Regions from separate parts of the Homo sapiens genome. Here region 1 is linked to region 2. Evidence: fine-mapped expression QTL. A gene starts in region 2. The other region holds a variant in brackets. All regions are shown on one strand. Distances are between the middles of the regions.

The links. PIP is the estimated chance that this variant, and not a neighbour inherited with it, causes the effect.
Region 1: its variant is fine-mapped to the expression of TRIM5 in whole blood (TOPMed, PIP above 0.99).

Annotation. Positions count from the first base shown.
Region 1 is chr11:5,657,399-5,666,425 of GRCh38, reverse strand. TRIM5 (tripartite motif containing 5) reads left to right here. Exons shown (of 8, transcript NM_033034.3): 6 at 345-445; 7 at 744-770; 8 at 1,031-3,231. The coding sequence ends at 1,617. LOC107984302 (a long non-coding RNA gene) reads left to right here and starts at 5,594. Exons shown (of 2, transcript XR_001748100.1): 1 at 5,594-7,216. The variant A/G (reference allele first, on the strand shown) is at 3,911.
Region 2 is chr11:5,680,954-5,689,980 of GRCh38, reverse strand. TRIM5 (tripartite motif containing 5) reads left to right here and starts at 4,907. Exons shown (of 8, transcript NM_033034.3): 1 at 4,907-5,113. TRIM22 (tripartite motif containing 22) reads right to left here and starts at 191. Exons shown (of 8, transcript NM_006074.5): 1 at 82-191. RefSeq lists enhancers at 1-86, 58-397, 1-511, 4,900-5,149.

The DNA of each region.
Region 1 (9,027 bases), 24 kb after region 2:
ACCAAAGTTTTGTTTTGTTTTGTTTTAAAATCCTTTTTTTTTTTTTTATGTCCTATGAGTTTAAGAATGTAGACAGGGAGAGGTTAATTATTTCATTTTAGAAGGAAGAAACTGTGCTTCTGAGAGGTTAAGATCTTCCCACGTTCTCACAGAAAGTAAGTGGGAAGGCAAACATGAGAACATTTTGTTTGCCTCCAGGGTCAAGAGTTTGCACTCTCCCTTCTCAGGATCCCCAAGAAGAGAGTTCAAGTGCCTCAATGGGTTGAAATGATAGGAAGTCAGGGGTGTTCCACGGACACAAGGTCAAAGGTTTGGAAGTTTTTTTTTTTTTTTTTAATTCTTAGGACGGAGAACGTGACCTTGAAGAAGCCAGAAACTTTTCCAAAAAATCAAAGGAGAGTGTTTCGAGCTCCTGATCTGAAAGGAATGCTAGAAGTGTTTAGAGGTGAGGAGAGCTAGATCAACAACAGGGTTATGGAATTCAAGTGGTGTTAGGGTGCTAAATAGGGAAGAGGGTGCAGTTTCCAAATATGGATAGAGGGGATAGGGGAGGATAGATATTGTCTGCTGCTGATGGGATTATATTTAATGGGAAATGGCTAGGTGGCTGTTTCATCTCATCATTCAGCAATTTACTGCCCTACCATAGGGCATACCTACTCTTTCCCTAATCTGGAGAGAAAATGAATTTCAGTGCTGACTCCTTTGTTTGTATTCAATATTGTGCATTTTTATCATTTCAGAGCTGACAGATGTCCGACGCTACTGGGGTAAGGAGAAGTCACATTATCATAAGCCACCCTGCGGCTTATCATTATTATTATCTTTATCTTTTAGAATTTTATGTTCTCTATTAGGCTCATGTTTTAAGATTTATGATTCTCCTTCCAAGACACACATAACTTACCCCTCCTTATAACTTCTAAACAAGGTTCCTCCCAGTTTTCTCTCAAGTCTTTATCAAGATTTCTCTCATATCACAAATAAAGTTACATTATATCCCTTAGCTGACCTGTTAATTTTTCTACAGTTGATGTGACAGTGGCTCCAAACAACATTTCATGTGCTGTCATTTCTGAAGATAAGAGACAAGTGAGCTCTCCGAAACCACAGATAATATATGGGGCACGAGGGACAAGATACCAGACATTTGTGAATTTCAATTATTGTACTGGCATCCTGGGCTCTCAAAGTATCACATCAGGGAAACATTACTGGGAGGTAGACGTGTCCAAGAAAACTGCTTGGATCCTGGGGGTATGTGCTGGCTTCCAACCTGATGCAATGTGTAATATTGAAAAAAATGAAAATTATCAACCTAAATACGGCTACTGGGTTATAGGGTTAGAGGAAGGAGTTAAATGTAGTGCTTTCCAGGATAGTTCCTTCCATACTCCTTCTGTTCCTTTCATTGTGCCCCTCTCTGTGATTATTTGTCCTGATCGTGTTGGAGTTTTCCTAGACTATGAGGCTTGCACTGTCTCATTCTTCAATATCACAAACCATGGATTTCTCATCTATAAGTTTTCTCACTGTTCTTTTTCTCAGCCTGTATTTCCATATTTAAATCCTAGAAAATGTGGAGTCCCCATGACTCTGTGCTCACCAAGCTCTTGAACCTTCTTACACACTCAGCCCCTTCTGTACAGCACCTCTTGTCCAGGTGCATCTCATACACCTGAACTCATTTGCATCATTTTAACCATCTTTTCCTTGCTGTCTCCCTTCTTTCTATTTGAACGTCCTTCACTCATCAGTAAAATGTAATAATTGCCTTGTGCCATATTGTCCCCAATATTTTATTGACATTTGATAGCAATTTTTTTCATCATTTTCCGTACTCCTAAGGAAAACTGACCTATACCTCATAAAATGAGACCGCTATTTAGGTATTACTTCTGCCAGATATTTATCACCCAATTGCCTCTGACACTGACTAAGAAGATGAAGAAAAGCTTTTCAACAGCCTTTCTATATCATCGTGTGATAATTGTTCACCAATGAATGAGTCCTTAGCCCTGTGTCAGTTTACCCTCGATGCCCTTATTTGTGAGTTAAAGAGAAAATATCATAAATGGTATACTCTTAAGTATAGAGGTTTTGTATCTAGAGGATCTCAGTTCAACTCCTGTCTCTCCATATACCAGCAGTGTAACTGTGAATAACATACTTAAATGGCTGTGCTTATTTCCTTTTCTTTTCTTTTTTCTTTTTTTTTTTTTTTGAGATGAAGTTTTGCTCTTGTTCCCCAGGCTGGAGTGCAATGGCACGATCTCGGTTCACTGCAACCTCCACCTCTCAGATTCAAGCAATTCTCCTGCCTCAGCCTCCCAAGTAGCTGGGATTACAGGTGCCCACCACCACCCCTGGCTAAATTTGTATTTTCAGTAGAGACGGGGTTTCCCCATGTTGGTTAGGCTCGTCTAGAACCTCTGACCTCAGGTGATCCACCCGCCTCGGCCTCCCAAAGTGCTGGGATTACAGGCGTGAGCCACGGCGCCCAGCCTGTGCTTATTTTCTTAAAATAATTTTTGTATTAAAAACTTCACATTAAATAAGTGCTAATGTTTTATTGCATAGTAGGGTGACTAGAGTTAACAATAACCTATTGCATATATTTTGAAATAGCTAGAAGAGAGGATTTTGAAAGTTCTCAACACAAAGAAATGACACATATTTGAGGTGATGGATATGCTAATTACCCTGGTTCGGTTATTACGCAATGTATACATGTATCAAAACATCACACTGTACCACATAAATATGTATATTTATTATTTGTCAATTAAAAGCAAAATAAAACAAAAAACCTTCATCTAATACTTTGGATCATTGTGAAAAAATAAATTCCTGAAGTATAAAGCATCTATCTAAGTGTCTTGATCTAATAAGTACTTGTTCTACAAATTATTGAAAAACATAAACTCTGTTAATGTCTCATGGAACAGGTTGTGCCTTCAGGGAAACTAGGATTGGATTTACTAAATTCTCATTTTTTAGATCTCAGATACTACTGTCAAAATGACTTCAATTCTGCCTTCTATATATAATACACACATATATTTAGGATTTTATTGTAATTCTAGTGTTGCTACATATTAGTCTTTATCAAACAAACTGAATTATGTGGGAATCAGTTTATTAATTGTAAAAAATAATTATAATAAAATTAGCTGATGTAGTTTTTTAAAAGTTAAACGAGTTTTTTGAATAGCTTCACTCATTTCTAGCATGTAAGGGGTAATCCATTATGGTGTTGGGCTTTTTTGTTTGTTTGTTTGTTTGTTTGTTTGTTTGTTTTGAGACAGGGTTTGTCTCTGTCACCCAAGCTGGAGTGCAATGGCACGATCTCGGCTCACTGCAACCTCCATCTCCAGGGTTCATCCTTCCACCTCAGCCTCCTGAGTAGCTGGGACTACAGTCACGCACCACCACGCCCTGGTTATTTTTTGTATTTTTGGTAGAGACAGGGTTTCACTATGTTGCCCAGGCGGATCCCGAAGCCCTGGGCTCAGGCGATCTGCCCACTTTACCTCCCAAAGTGCTAGGATTATAGGTGTGAGCCACCATGCCCGGCCTCATTATGGTGTCTATTAATTTTTGGTTCCCTCTCACTGTGACTGAAAGCAATAATTTTTAACAATATGTAATAGTTCTTTTCAAAATTATCTTTCTCCCTTCGTTTGAAGAAATACAAGAACTAAGTTAAAAATCACAGATTTTTCTTGTAGAAAGTTTTAAAATAAGTGTTTATAAATGGGAAAAAAAATCTTTGTTCTTAATTTCATAGCTGCCTAGTCTTAAGTTGTTTTAAGTATTTCTGAGTACTCTAATTTCATTGTAAATTTTTCCTGTTTGCCAAGTAGTAAAAACGTATTTTGCACAGTGATGCAGATAAAGTCAGAAGTAC[A/G]TGTGGCATTTCTCAACAATGGTATCGATAAGTGAATTGTGAGCCCAGGTTAGCCTGACTCTTCATTAAAGTAACAAAGGCATGGTAATTTTCATAAATGACAAAAAAATACTTGTTCTCCTTGTTCAGTGAGGAGAATTATTTTTGCAACGGATGTTTATGAAGGGCATGGTAGGATCCCTATGTCTATTGGCATTTTTATTTCCAACTCTTTCCCAAGTTTTGAGCTGAAGTTTTTTGTTTTGTTTTAATGGTCTACCTCATCAAATAGTCTCTGCTCTTCACCCTGCTTCCCCACAGAAATTTTAAGGTCTCTATCTTTGTGGTAACTTTAGTCAGAGAAGGGATTCCAAGGTGAATATTTTCAGTAACTATGTGTGTGCACACACCTCTCTACCTCAGCACCATCCAGGGAAACCGAGGAGGTTGATGCTATAAATTTTCCCTTTTACCTCTGCTTTCCTGTCACCCAATGCTATGAAGATTGAGGCTTTCACTCACTGGGAACAGTCTGGACTAGCTTGAATTATTGGCAAGTGACTCTCCAGGGACATTAATGCCTTTTCATTTCCTGGAAAGCCAAGTCCCACAGCTCAGGATGAAGTACCCAGTTACACAACAATAAAGACCTGAATTTGTATATACAACAGAAAAGATCTGCACACTGAAGGATTTTTTCAAACAGATGCTCCTGGCCCTAGTAATGAACCTCTCAGCTGAAAAGAATATGAAGCTTATGAATTGCTCTGAGTTACACTCCGTCTTCTCAGTAAAAGGCTGAAGAAGGCAACCTGTGCTCCAAAAGGCTAATGGACGTCAACTGTGGATTTTCTCTCTGCCTGTGTATCAGTTCTAGGATGTTCCCTCCCCATCACTTCTGAACCTCTGAGTAACAATTATGTCGTCTTCTATTCTGAGACTTCAGATCTATGCTGGGCCATTAATTAGGCATATCTGGCTAGAATTTTGGTACAATCTGGGGAGAAGCACAGAGAAAAGAGGTTGTGAAAAAAAACAGGGATTGCTTGAAGACTGTTCTGCAGGACACTGAGTAAAGAATGGGAGCAGGCCTCAAGCAGAAACCAGTGGGAGGACAAAGAATACGAAGAAGCAGAATGAGAGTTCGTAGGGGCTAAAGAGAAGGTGCCCTGATGAAGAGCCAATTCTAAGATTCAAAGGGAGAGAAAAGTAAAAGAACGTTTATATGATGTGTTGGAGGGATGGGATGGAATAAGCATCGGGCAGAGGAGAGCTCTTTGGAAAAGAGATCTCTTTGGTTTTTTTCTTTGGACATTGCAACCAATACTCCTTCTTGATGCTATACTTGTCACAAGGTAACAATTATGTTCTGAGCTCCTTGATCCTATTCAGTATCAATAAGATACATAAGTTAAATCTCATAATATGCCTAAACATATATCTAATCTTTTTTTTTTTTTTTTTTTTTTTTTTTTTTTTTTTTTTTTTTTTTTTTGAGACGGAGTCTCTCTCTGTCGCCCAGGCTGGAGTGCAGTGGCGCGATTTCGGCTCACTGCAACCTCCACCTCCTGGGTTCACGCCATTCTCCTGCCTCAGTCTCCCGAGTAGCTGGCACTACAGGCACCTGCCACCATGCCCAGCTAATTTTTGGTATTTTTAGTAGAGTCAGGGTTTCACCGTGTTAGCCAGGATGGTCCCGATCTCCTGACCTCAAGATCCGCCCGCCTCGGCCTCCGAAAGTGCTGGGATTACAGGCGTGAGCCACTGCGCCCGGCCTATCTAAACTTAATAATATCTTTGTATTAACCACCATACTCCAACACCACCATTATTTTCTTTCTGAATTATGTGGCAGTGCAAAACATTACAACCACACTGAAAAAAAAATCCGGCAGTTTGGTAGAGAAAGAAAGCGTAAAATCAATCAATTTAACATATAGTTAAAGATTGTCTAGAGTGAGCAAAACTGAGGTTCTATTTCCATTAATGAAGGTATATATTCTAATAAAACTGCATGCCCTCACCCACAGATCCAACATTAGAAACCTTGGACAAAATGTAAAAATCAAACCTGAAGGCACTAGAAAGTGACAAGCAATCAGAATATTCAGGGTAATAGACACTTAGAAAAAGACAACAGTATTGGGGGAGTTTCCTGTTTCTGTGGCTTTTCACTTGAAGGCAGACCTCAGTTGTTACTGGGTAGAACACTAAAAACTCAGTTAACAATATATGTACTTGCTGCTTTGAAAAACAAGAATGAGCCGGACGCAGTGGCTTACGCTTGTAATCCCAGCACTTTGGGAGGCTGAGGTGGGCAGATCACAAGATCAGGATTTCGAGACCAGCTAGGCCAATATGGTGAAACCCCGTCTCTACTAAAAACACAAAAATTAGCCGGGCATGGTGGTGGGCGCCTGTAGTCCCAGCTACTCAGGAGGCTGAGGCAGGAGAATCGCTTGAACCCAGGAGGCAGAGGTTGCAGTGAGCCGAGATCTCGCCACTGCACGTCAGCCTGGGCGACAGAGCGAGACTCCGTTTCAAAAAAAAAAGAATGATTTGTGCCTGCCATAGCAACTAGAAAATGATGGTAGAGTACCCGTAAAGAAGAGATATAGAGGAATAAATACCAAATTGTATAAACTCTAGTCAAGTCTCTAAAGTACATGTTTGAGACAGATGTGAAGCAGCCCAAAATAGGCTAAAGATTTCAGCTGCTGTATGTAGCAGGGAAAAATTAAGAATTTAATTTCAATCAAATTAACTACCTGAAAAAAAAAAAAGGCTTCAGAGAATTATACAGAATCCAGAACAGGAGCTTACAAAACAATAAAACCTGGGGATGGTAATGTTTCAGTATGTTCTATGGTCTGTACCATCTAGGCACTCAGTCACTACAGTTTTATTCTTAGTGCAGTTTACTACAGCAAGAATATTTGAATTAAAAGAATATGAATTACAGTTATACATTCTACAGCTTTGAATATACAGTGCTTTACCTGAGTACTTAGAATTTCCATGCAATTCTATAATTATTAGTTGAAGTTATCTTATACCTAAGCTCTAAGCATGTAGAATAATGACCCAGAACAACTTGACACCTAGCATCTTGAAATGCAATCTGATGGGGAAGACACTGAGTTATAAAGCTCTGCAAATTTGGGCTGACAAAATGAGTTATTAGTGAAATGAGAAAAGTTCCCTTGTTCCCTTTGCAGGGCATGCGACAGGGGGAATGGCTCGCTTCAGTGCCCTGCTGCTCAAAGCTCTAGGGGAGAATGCAGACGGGCAGGCTGTGGGGCTCTAACCCCACAGCAACCTCTAGGGGTGAGTGTTTACAGCTCCTGTGGGCCCCGCGGACATGTGTTACACTGTACTCTTTTTTTTTATACTTTAAGTTCTAGGGTACATGTGCACAATGTGCAGGTTTGTTACATATGTATACATGTGCCGTGTTGGTTTGGTGCACCCATTAACTCGTCATTTACATTAGGTATTTCTCCTAATACTATCCCTCCCCCAGGCGCCCACCCTACCACAGGCCTCAGTGTGTGATGTTCCCCGCCCTGTGTCCAAGTGTTCTCATTGTTCAATTCCCACCTACAAGTGAGAACATGCGGTGTTTGGTTTTCTGTCCTTGTGATAGTTTGCTGAGAATGATGGTTTCCAGCTTCATCCATGTCCCTGCAAAGGACATGAACTCATCCTTTTTTGTAGCTGCATAGTATTCCATGGTGTATAGTGCCACATTTGACCCAGCGATCCCATTACTGGGTATGTGCCCAAAGGATTATAAATCATGCTGCTATAAAGACACATGCACACACTGTACTCTTTCTAACAAAACTTCATGTCCTCACCCATAGATCAACATTAGAAACCTTGCACAAAATGTGAAAATCAAGTAAACCTGAAGGCACTAGAAAGTGACAAAAGCAGTCAGAATATTCAGGGTAATAGACACTTAGAAAAATATAACAGTATTGGAGGAGTTTCCTCTTTGCTGCCTGCAGGTGGCTTGTGTTTATCTGCTCTGACCCTCTGCCTTATTGCAAGGACAGAGGGCTTTCTGTATCCCAGGTTCTTGCCTTAACGTATCAGAAAAATTGGATCACACGTGGGCTTGGAGAACGAGTGCAAGGTTTTTTATCGAGTGGTAGTAGCTCTCAGCGAGGTGGATGAAGAGGCCAGAAGGAAGATGGAGTAGGAAGGTGGATTTCCCTGGAGTTGGGCCACCCAGCAGCCAGGCTGTCCTCTGACATCCCCGACCAATCTCTGCATCGGTCCATTGGTCGCTGGCCTTCCAGCATGTGCTGGTGCCTGTTGGTGTGTTCTTCTACCAATTTGCTACTCTTAACATTCAGTTGCTTGTGTCTCTTCCTGCTATAGGCACAGGATGGGGGCATAGCAGGCCAGGGTGATCTTGGAAAATGCAACATTTGGGCACAAAAACGGAAATTCCTGTCCTCACCTAAGTCTGTGGGCCCAGGCCCCAGGAGTGGAGGCTTTGTCAGGGACCGTGCCTTTCTCTTTTCAGCACTTCCCTGCACCCCTCTCATATAATTAGCAGCTGTCATTCTGAATGGGAAAAATAAACTTATTTTTCTAAATAAAAGGATTTTGCCAGACATGGTGGCTCAGGCCTGTAATCCCAGCACTTTGGGAGGCCGAGGCTCTCAGATCACTTGAGGTCAGGAGTTAGAGACCAGCCTGGCCAACATGGTGAAACTCTGTCTCTACTAAAACTACAAAAATTTGCCGGGCATGGTGGTGCAGGCCTGTAGTCCCAGCTATTCCAGAATATAATACAATATAATATATATATATATTTATATATATTATATTATAAATATATATATATTATATTATAAATATATATTATATATAATATATAAATAATATATATAATGCATTATATATAATATATAAATATATATTATATATAATGCATTATATATAATATATAAATAATATATATAAATGCATTATATATAATATATAAATAATATATATAATGCATTATATATAATATATAAATATATATATAAATGCATTATATATAAATATTTTATATATATATACACTTTAAGTTCTGGGATACATGTGCAGAACGTGCAGGTTTGTTACACAGGTATACA
Region 2 (9,027 bases):
CAAATTAAACTCACCCAGACACAATCAATCTATTCTTCTCAAAGCCTCCCATTCTATGCTCCCACAGATTGCTCCACTCACCTTCAGTCCAAAGCAGAGGAGTCTTGAATCAGGGGAGAAGAGTGAAGGCAGGGCAGGAGCCGGTGTAAACCAGATTCACTCACCAAGCCAGAGGGCTGGTCTCCACAAATGAGTTTCCCCACAGGAGCTGAGTGAGAAACGAAAGTTAAATTCTCAGAAGTGAAAGAAAACAAAGGAAGCTGAACAAGAACTTACATAACAATAAACCCTGGGGAAAGTAATGCTACATTATGTTCTAGCATCTGCTGTACTGGCAAGGCACTCAGTCACTACTTCCTTATTCTTACTGTGGTTTACTCAAGCAAGAATATTTGAATAAAAAGAATGTGAATTACAGTTATACAGCTTGCCTGAATACTTAGAATTCCAATGCAGTCCTATAATTATTAGTCGAATTTATCTTATATTTAAGACCTAAGCCAGGAAAATAAAGATCCAGAGACTTGGGACCTAGCTTCTTGAAATGCAGTCTGACGAGGAAGATACTCAGTTATAAAGCTCTACAAATTTGGGCTGACAAGATGAGTATTAGCAGCTGACATTGTGAATGGTAAAAAAATTATTTTTATAAATAAAAGGATCTTTAGTGTGAGCCCATTGAAAAAAATGTTCTCAAAATGTCATTAAATCTTAAGAGTCCATCAATTAATTATCACTTCCTGCTCCTAATCCAGACAGACCAGATGAGGATGGATTCCAGAGAGTAATAGAGGTAAAACTGTGTCAGTGTCATGTTACCCAGCCACTGAGGCAGGTGAGAACATGGAAGTTAACAGATGATGCTGTTTAATTATAATCATTCATTGAGTTACTCTCATGCCTTCATAATTTTTCCACTTTTCCCTGCTTCTCTAAGAAAAGTTTGGTCATTTTTACACAATCAATTAAAAAGCAGCACTGAAACATGTTATACGTCATGCACATACTTCTGTACCCTGTTGTCTATTGTATTCTTGTTTAACTGCATGTGCCAGATAATGCCATCAAAAACTGATGGAGGCCTGTGGTGTCTCATGCCTGTAATCCCAGCACTCTGGGAGGCCCAGGTGGGTGGATCACTTGAGTCCAGGACTTCAACACCAGCCTGGGCAACATGGTGAAATCCCATCTCTAAGAAAAATTAAAAAAAAAAAAATAGCTGGGTGTGGTGATGTGCACCTGTAGTCCCAGCTACTCAGGAAACTGAGATGGGAGGATGGCTTGAGCCCAGGAGGTGGAGGTTGCATTGAGCCAAGATTGCGTCATTGCACCATAGCACTGCAGCCTGGGTGACATAGTAAGACCCTGTCTCTACAAAAAACAAACAAACAAACACCACACAACACATACACACACACACCCAAAAAAAAAGAAAAAAAAAGGCAACTCATGGAGCTTCCATAACATGGATCCCTGACTGACACTATGGAGCATGGCCATCTTCATACTTTAATCAATGATACACATGTAGGATGACTGAGAAATCAATGTTTATTATTTCAATAATAGATATTTTGGTATTATTTGTTGCTCACAGAATAATAAGCTAATCCTGGCTATAAATTCTTTCCTACTCACTTATATCTATGAGGACCTTATTCAATCAGCTGAAAGCCAGAATAGAAGAAAAAACTGACTTCTCCCCGAGAAGAGGGAATATTACCAGCAGGCAAACCTCAGGCGTGAGCTATAACGTTGACTCCTTCTTGGATCCAGAGCCTCTTGGCCTACCTTGCAGACTTTGGATTTGCCAGTCTCCAGAATCACCTGAGACATTTCTCAAGTTTCTTTCCAAATAAATTCATAGTTTAGTGGTTCTATTGCTATGATGAACCTTGACTAAGACAGGCGTGAAATTTTCTTATTTCTTCTTGAAGATAAATAAGCAAGAGATGTAATTTTAGGTATATTCCATGTTTGAATAGAATATCTTGTTGACATTTGTAGGGGAGTGAGCGCTCAGTGAGTGAATGTGTTTTTTCTGGAGTGCACAGAGTGGAGTCCGAGTGTCAACCACAATGGACAAAGTGAATGAACTCATTTATCCAGAGACCTGTTCTCTGTCCATTATTTCTTCCCTTCTCAGCACTTCCATAGATCTCATAGCCATCCTTTTATTCTCGTCTGGCTTTGAACATCTGAAGTGAACTTTCATCCTGGTCTGATTTATCTCATGAAGTATTAATTGCAGCTGAGAGAAAACAGTAGTAATATTAGGTCCTGACAAGATACCAGAAAACGTGGGCCAATAGAAAAACTGAATGCACCACACACAGTTTATCACCAGAGTAGAGCATGTTGGCAGGCTCCATATTCTAACCTATGTTCTAAATTGTAGAAAAAATATATTATTGTTGGAGCTCTGTGTTTTCTCTGTAAACCCTTTTTTTTTTTTTTTTTTTTGAGACGGAGTCTCGCTCTGTCGCCCAGGCCGGACTGCGGACTGCAGTGGTGCGATCTCGGCTCACTGCAAGCTCCGCTTCCCGGGTTCACGCCATTCTCCTGCCTCAGCCTCCCGAGTAGCTGGGACTACAGGCGCCCGCCACCGCGCCTGGCTAATTTTTTGTATTTTTAGTAGAGACGGGGTTTCACCTTGTTAGCCAGGATGGTCTCAATCTCCTGACCTCATGATCCACCCACCTTGGCCTCCCAAAGTGCTGGGATTACAGGCGTGAGCCACCGCGCCCAGCCTGTAAACCTTATATATCCTGCTTTCCTGCTTGAAAAGGAATCAAATGAAATATCTCTACCTTTGGGTCCATGGATATTTAACATTTTTCTCTTCAAGAAAAAGAGCAAAATAAGAGTAAATATGGTTAGAGTCTGAATAATACTTAGGAAGAAAACAGAGAGGATATTTTAAAAAATCGTTTAAAATTTGTTTAAAAATTTACATAATTACTTTTTTTTTTTTTTTTTTTTTTTTTTTTTTTTTTTTTTTTTGAGACAGAGTCTCACTCTATTGCCCAGGCTGGAGTGCAGTGGCATGATCTCGGCTCACTTCAACCTCCACCTCCCGGGTTCACGCAATTCTCCTTCCTCACCCTCCTGAGTAGCTGGGATTACAGGCATCTGCCATTACACCTGGCTAATTTTTGTATTTTTCGTAGAGATGAGGTTTCACCATGTTGGTCAGGCTGGTCTCAAATTCCTGACCTCAAGTGATCCACCCGCCTTGGTCTCCCGAAGTGCGAGGATTACAGGTGTGAGCCACTGCAAATGTAATCATTACATAATTATTACTAATGCCACATAATTATTACTAAATAACAATTAGTAATATTAATTATAATTGTAACTATTAATAATTGTAATTATTAATAATACTAATTATTATAATTATTACTATAATTATTACTGCCACATAATTATTACTAATGCCAGAAGAATATTTGAATTAAACTAGGTGACACAGCAGTTATCTTTACAGCAAGAATAGAACAGAAATGTGACATCAAGATATTCAATTAAAATTAGATTAATAGCTATATATCTTCATATCTATTTAAATATTACTCCTTATATACACCATATTCTAGTAAATCTGAGACAATAAAGAACAAAATGCAAAAGCCCCCTACCTGATTTCATGAAACAGAAAGCTGCGGGGGTACAGTGTGGAGGGGGTATGAGGTTACTGATGATGGAATTAAGTGATAACAGGCTGCCCACTGCAGTGCTCCCCATTGCCTTCTCCTGAGGCATTTTCATTTTCAAACTAAATACTCCTCTCTACCAATGATCCTAGTTCCAGTGTGGACTTCCTGAGATGTTCCAGTAAGGGAAAGCTTAGAAGGGAGGCTATGGTACATGGACCACAGTTCAGCCTTTTGGACCAGTTTTGCATAGTAACCAGAAGAGAAGAGAGAGGAAGGCCTGGCCCTGCTCAGGGATGCAATAGATACTTTGGAAAAGACAACAGCGGGAAGTTGGAGAGTTCTTTGAAAGTGAATAGTTGAAAGAAATAATGTGGTATTTCTTTATCGCTCTCCAGATAAACTTCTTTTTTTTTTTTTTTTTTTTTTTTTTTTTGAGACGGAGTCTCACTCTGTCGCCCAGGCTGGAGTGCAGTGGCGCGATCTCTGCTCACTGCAAGCTCCGCCTCCCGGGTTCACGCCATTTTGCTGCCTCAGCCTCCGGAATAGCTGGGACCACAGGCACCCGCCACCATGCCCGGCTAATTTTTTATTTTATTTTATTTTATTTTATTTTATTAGAGATGGGTTTTCACCGTGTTAGCCAGGATGGTCTCGATCTCCTGACGTTGTGATCCGCCCGCCTCAGCCTCCCAAAGTGCTGGCATTACAGGCGTGAGCCACCGCGCCCGGCCCTCTCCAGATAAATTTCTAGCATCCTGTCCTCTCTGGGTTTCGGAGTCTTAATAATATGACATCTCTCCTACCTGCAGCTCCTTTTCTGTTCATAGGTCCTATAAGATTTTTAAGTCCAGACCAGAAATCTACTGCAATTCTCTAAAAATCATTAACTTTGTTCTTCCTTCTCTTTGGGCCATATCTGTCACCCAGAAGCAGAACTCAGCTGTGAGATCAGGAGCAAGAGGAGCACATTGGAAGAATTTCGAAAAAGGGCACCTTTTCTAATTTTTAATACTTGGCTGGGTTAATCTGAAACTATGTCAGAAGAAGTGGCATGATAACAAGATCCTGAGACTCAAGAGAAAAGGGAGATTGAGTGGGAATGCCTCTAGTTCCCACGGCTCCTCCTGTGAACAGCACAGCTACACGGCCCGGCTGATTCATTCAGAGGGCGGGACTCACCAGGCCCTACGTGGAGAAATGCCATTGGCCCATAGTTTATCTTTCACTTTCCTGCCCTGAGTGTGAGCAAGAATTTCCTGCGGTTCCTCTAGGAAAATTCCTTTGTGCAGATCAGGCCCGTGGATTGGTGAGTGAATCCTAACCACGTCTTCCCTGGCCTGTCTTCACTCTTCTCCCCAGAATCACCACTTCTGCACTGGTGTCTGAAGGTGTATTGAGTGATTTTGTGGAGGGCAGAAGTAGGAAGTCTTTGGGACAAAACTGTATTTACCTTGGTGAGTTTAACTTATCTGAAAAGCTGTGCGGGGGTGGGGAAAAGACACAGTTCACAGACTTCTTGCTGCCAGAGCTGACTGAGGGGAACAGAGCCGCCTGGCGGGCAGGCAGATTTGAAAGAAGGGAGAGCTTTAAAGTGAAGGGCTTTGTTTCCCGAAGGCTGGTTATTTTTCCATGCTGACTCTCTCCCCATCCCCTCCCTACTCTATACTTTTTAATTGAACTTTGCTGTAGAGAGCCAGAATTCTCTCTTTCAGTGTCTTCTCCCAACAACAAGGGCAAAGACAGGGGCCTTGGAATCCTAATGATTTAATGCCTATTAGTTTACTAATGTAGTGTTTCTGCATAACTCTACAGGTCAGTTCTCATCACCTTGGCCTGGCTCTGTGACATCAGCCTTCATGGTGTGACAGCTGTCCAGTTCTGTAGTCCTGTCATTGTCACTGTAAATGGAGTTCTTTCCCTAGTTCATATTGGTTACAAAGATAATGGGAAAAAAGGCAAGCAGGTTTTATTTCTTGCTAGGAGTGGAGAGTAAGAGAGCTCCTTCTCTAAAGCCCCCTCCCCCAAAACAGTGGAAAGCATTGGCTTTAAAAGAACTGAGTACGGGGAGAGAAAGGAGTGTTAGCCTATAGGGTGGAACTCCAGTTGTGCCACCTCTGTTTATAAACACATGTCTTCATACTGTGTCCGGAATTGGTGGGTTCTTGGTCTCACTGACTTCAAGAATGAAGCCGCGGACGCTTGCAGTGAGTGTTACAGTTCTTAAAGGCGGCATGTCCGGAGTTTCTTCCTTCTGATGTTCGGATGTGTTCAGAGTTTCTTCTTTCTGGTGGGTTCGTGGTCTCGCTGGCTCAGGAGGGAAGCTGCAGACCTTCGCGGTGAGTGTTACAGCTCATAAAGGCAGTGTGGACCCAAAGAGTGAGCAGTATTAAGATTTATTGCAAAGAGGAAAATAACAAAGCGTCCATAGTGTGGAAGGGGACCAGCGCAGGTTGCCACTGCTGGCTCAGGCAGCCTGCTTTTATTCTCTTATCTGGCCCCACCCACATCCTCCTGATTGGTCCATTTTACAGAGAGCCGAGTGGTCTGTTTTGACAGGGCACTGATTGGTGCATTTACAATCCCTGAGCTAGACACAAAAGTTCTCCAGTCCCCACTAGATTAGCTAGATACAGAGTGTAGACACAAAGATTCTCCACATCCCCACCAGAGTAGCTAGATACAGAGTGTCGATTGGTGCATTCACAAACCCCGAGCTAGACACAGGGTGCTGATTGGTGTGTTTACAAACCTTGAGCTAGATACAGAGTGCCGATTGGTGTATTTACAATCCCTTCGCTAGACATAAAGTTTCTCCAAGTCCCCACCAGAGTAGCTAGATATAGAGTGTCGATTGGTGCATTCACAAACCCTGAGCTAGACACAGGGTGCTGATTGGTGCATTTACAATCCCTTAGCTAAACATAAAGGTTCTGCAAGTCCCCACCAGACTCAGGAACCCCACTGGCTTCACGCAGTGGATCCTGCACCGGGCCGCAGGTGGAGCTGCCTGCCAGTCCTGTGCCATGCCACGCACCTGCACTCCTCAGCCCTTGGGTGGTGATGGGACTGGGCGCCGTGGAGCAGGGGGCGGTGCTCGTCAGGGACGCTCGCGCAGCACAGGAGCCCAAGGGGTCGTGGGGAGGCTCAGGCATGGTGGGCTGCAGGTCCTGAGCTCTGCCCCGCGGGGAGGCAGCTAAGGCCCGGCGAGAAATTGAGCACAGCAGCTGCTGGCCCAGGTGCTAAGCCGCTCACTGCCCGGGGCAGCGGGGCCGGCCGGCCACTCCGAGTGCGGGGCCCACCAAGCCCACGCCCACCCGGAACTCCAGCTGGCCCACAAGCGCGGCGCGCAGCCCCGGTTCCCGCTCGCCCCTCTCCCTCCACACCTCCCTGCAAGCTGAGGGAGCCAGCTCCGGCCTTGGCCAGCCCAGAAAGGGGCTCCCACAGTGCAGCGGTGGGCTGAAGAGCTCCTCAAGTGCCGCCAAAGTGGGAGCCCAGGCAGAGGAGGCGCCAAGAGCGAGTGAGGGCTGCAAGGACTGCCAGCATGCTGTCACCTCTCAATACAACCCAGGCACACAAAATGGTGGAGATTTTCTTGTTTGGTGTCGTGTGGGGGAGGGGGTAACTTAACACTCTAGTGATATGTTAATGATCTAAAGGCAATTAGGGATTGTCAGTTCCAGTATATACGCTGGTTCGGGGGTCTAATTTCCCCCTTGGATCTGGTCAGGGGTCAAGATCTGGACCATGCTGGGCAGTCTGGCTTCTTCTTAAGCAACTTTGTCTATACATAAAGGGAATAAAGAAAAACGTTAAGAAAAATAACTTTCCCAGTCATTTCATCAGGGCTTCCCTGGTGACAGCATCTGTTTGCCTCTACTAGGGCACCAAGTCCAGACTCAGGGAACTACTGGATTTTCTTAAAAATCATTAACCTTGCTCCTCCCTCTCCGTGGGCCGTATCTGCCCCCCAAAAGCAGAGCTTAGGTGAGATACGAAGAGCAGGAGAAGCATGTGGAAAGAATACCCAAGTAGCTGGGATTACAGGCACCTGTCACCAAGCTCAGCTCATTTTGTATTTTTAGTAGAGACAGAATTTCACCATGTTGGCCAGGCTGGTCTTGAACTCCCAGCCTCAGGTGATCCGCCTGCCTTGGCCTCCCAAAGTACTAGGATTACAAGCGTGAGCCACCACACCCGTCTGGTTAAGTTAAATATTAAAAGCTGAAGCCGGGCACGGTGGCTCACGCCTGTAATCCCAGCACTTTAGGAGGCCGAGGCAGGTGGATCACAAGGTCAGGAGTTGGAGACCAGACTGGCCAATATGGTGAAACCCCATCTGTACCAAAAATACAAAAATTAGCCGGGTGTGGTGGTGCGTGCCTGTGGTCCCAGCTGCTCGGGAGGCTGGGGCAGAGGAGTCACTGGAACCTGGGAGGCAGAGGTTGTGGTGAGCCGAGATTGTGCCATTGCACTCCAGCCTGGGCGACAGAGCAAGACTCCGTCTCAAAAAAGAAAAAAAAATATTAAAAGCTGATAGAGCCAGTGCCCTTATACAAAGGCTGGAATGTAACAGAAGCCCACTGAGAGTTTTGCCCAGGCCTTTCCTGGGCCTTGAAGCATGACAAGATAACGAAGGAATCGATTAGGACCTGTTTAGGATTAAACAAGTTTTATGGGGGTCTGAAGGAACTCCCAGGCCTCCACAAACAAGTTTATTGAGGGTCTGAAGGAACTCCGCAAACCTTAATGATTTAGCAGGAGAGACAAGATAAGGGTAATCACCCCAGCACCCGGACCCATCTAGATTAGGTAAATTTACTGAGGCACCAGAGGAAGGTCTTAAAACTCAGACCTTAGTTATAGATTTGAAGAAGTTAATCACTTATGTTTTTAGATGAATAATGCACACCTATACGTAGACGTATAGCTTAGAAGGTATATAAGCTCTGGAAAACTTTGTAATTTTGAGTTGGTCTGGAGATATTTTCTAGGCCTTCTCCCTGTACGCAGAAATAAAAATTCGCTTCTTTCCCAGTAAATCTGCATCTCGTTATTGGGCCGCAAGAAGCAGCAGCCGACCCTCCGTTTGTTCCGGGAACAGAATCATCTCATCTAATATTTTGAGACTTCTCTCTCAAGACTGATATCCACTGCCTCTGTGCTTCTAGTTTTCAAGTATCCAACATGTGTGGTCCACTGAGTATTTCTCTATCATCACCCTCTACACCATGTCTACACCTTTAGGCTCCAATAAATGTCCTTGGCAAACTTTCAGGATGAGACTCCTCAGAACCTCCCAGCTGTTGTGGATTCCTCTACTTCCACACCCCAATTGCTCTGGGTATTAATTGGATATATGCTGTTATCT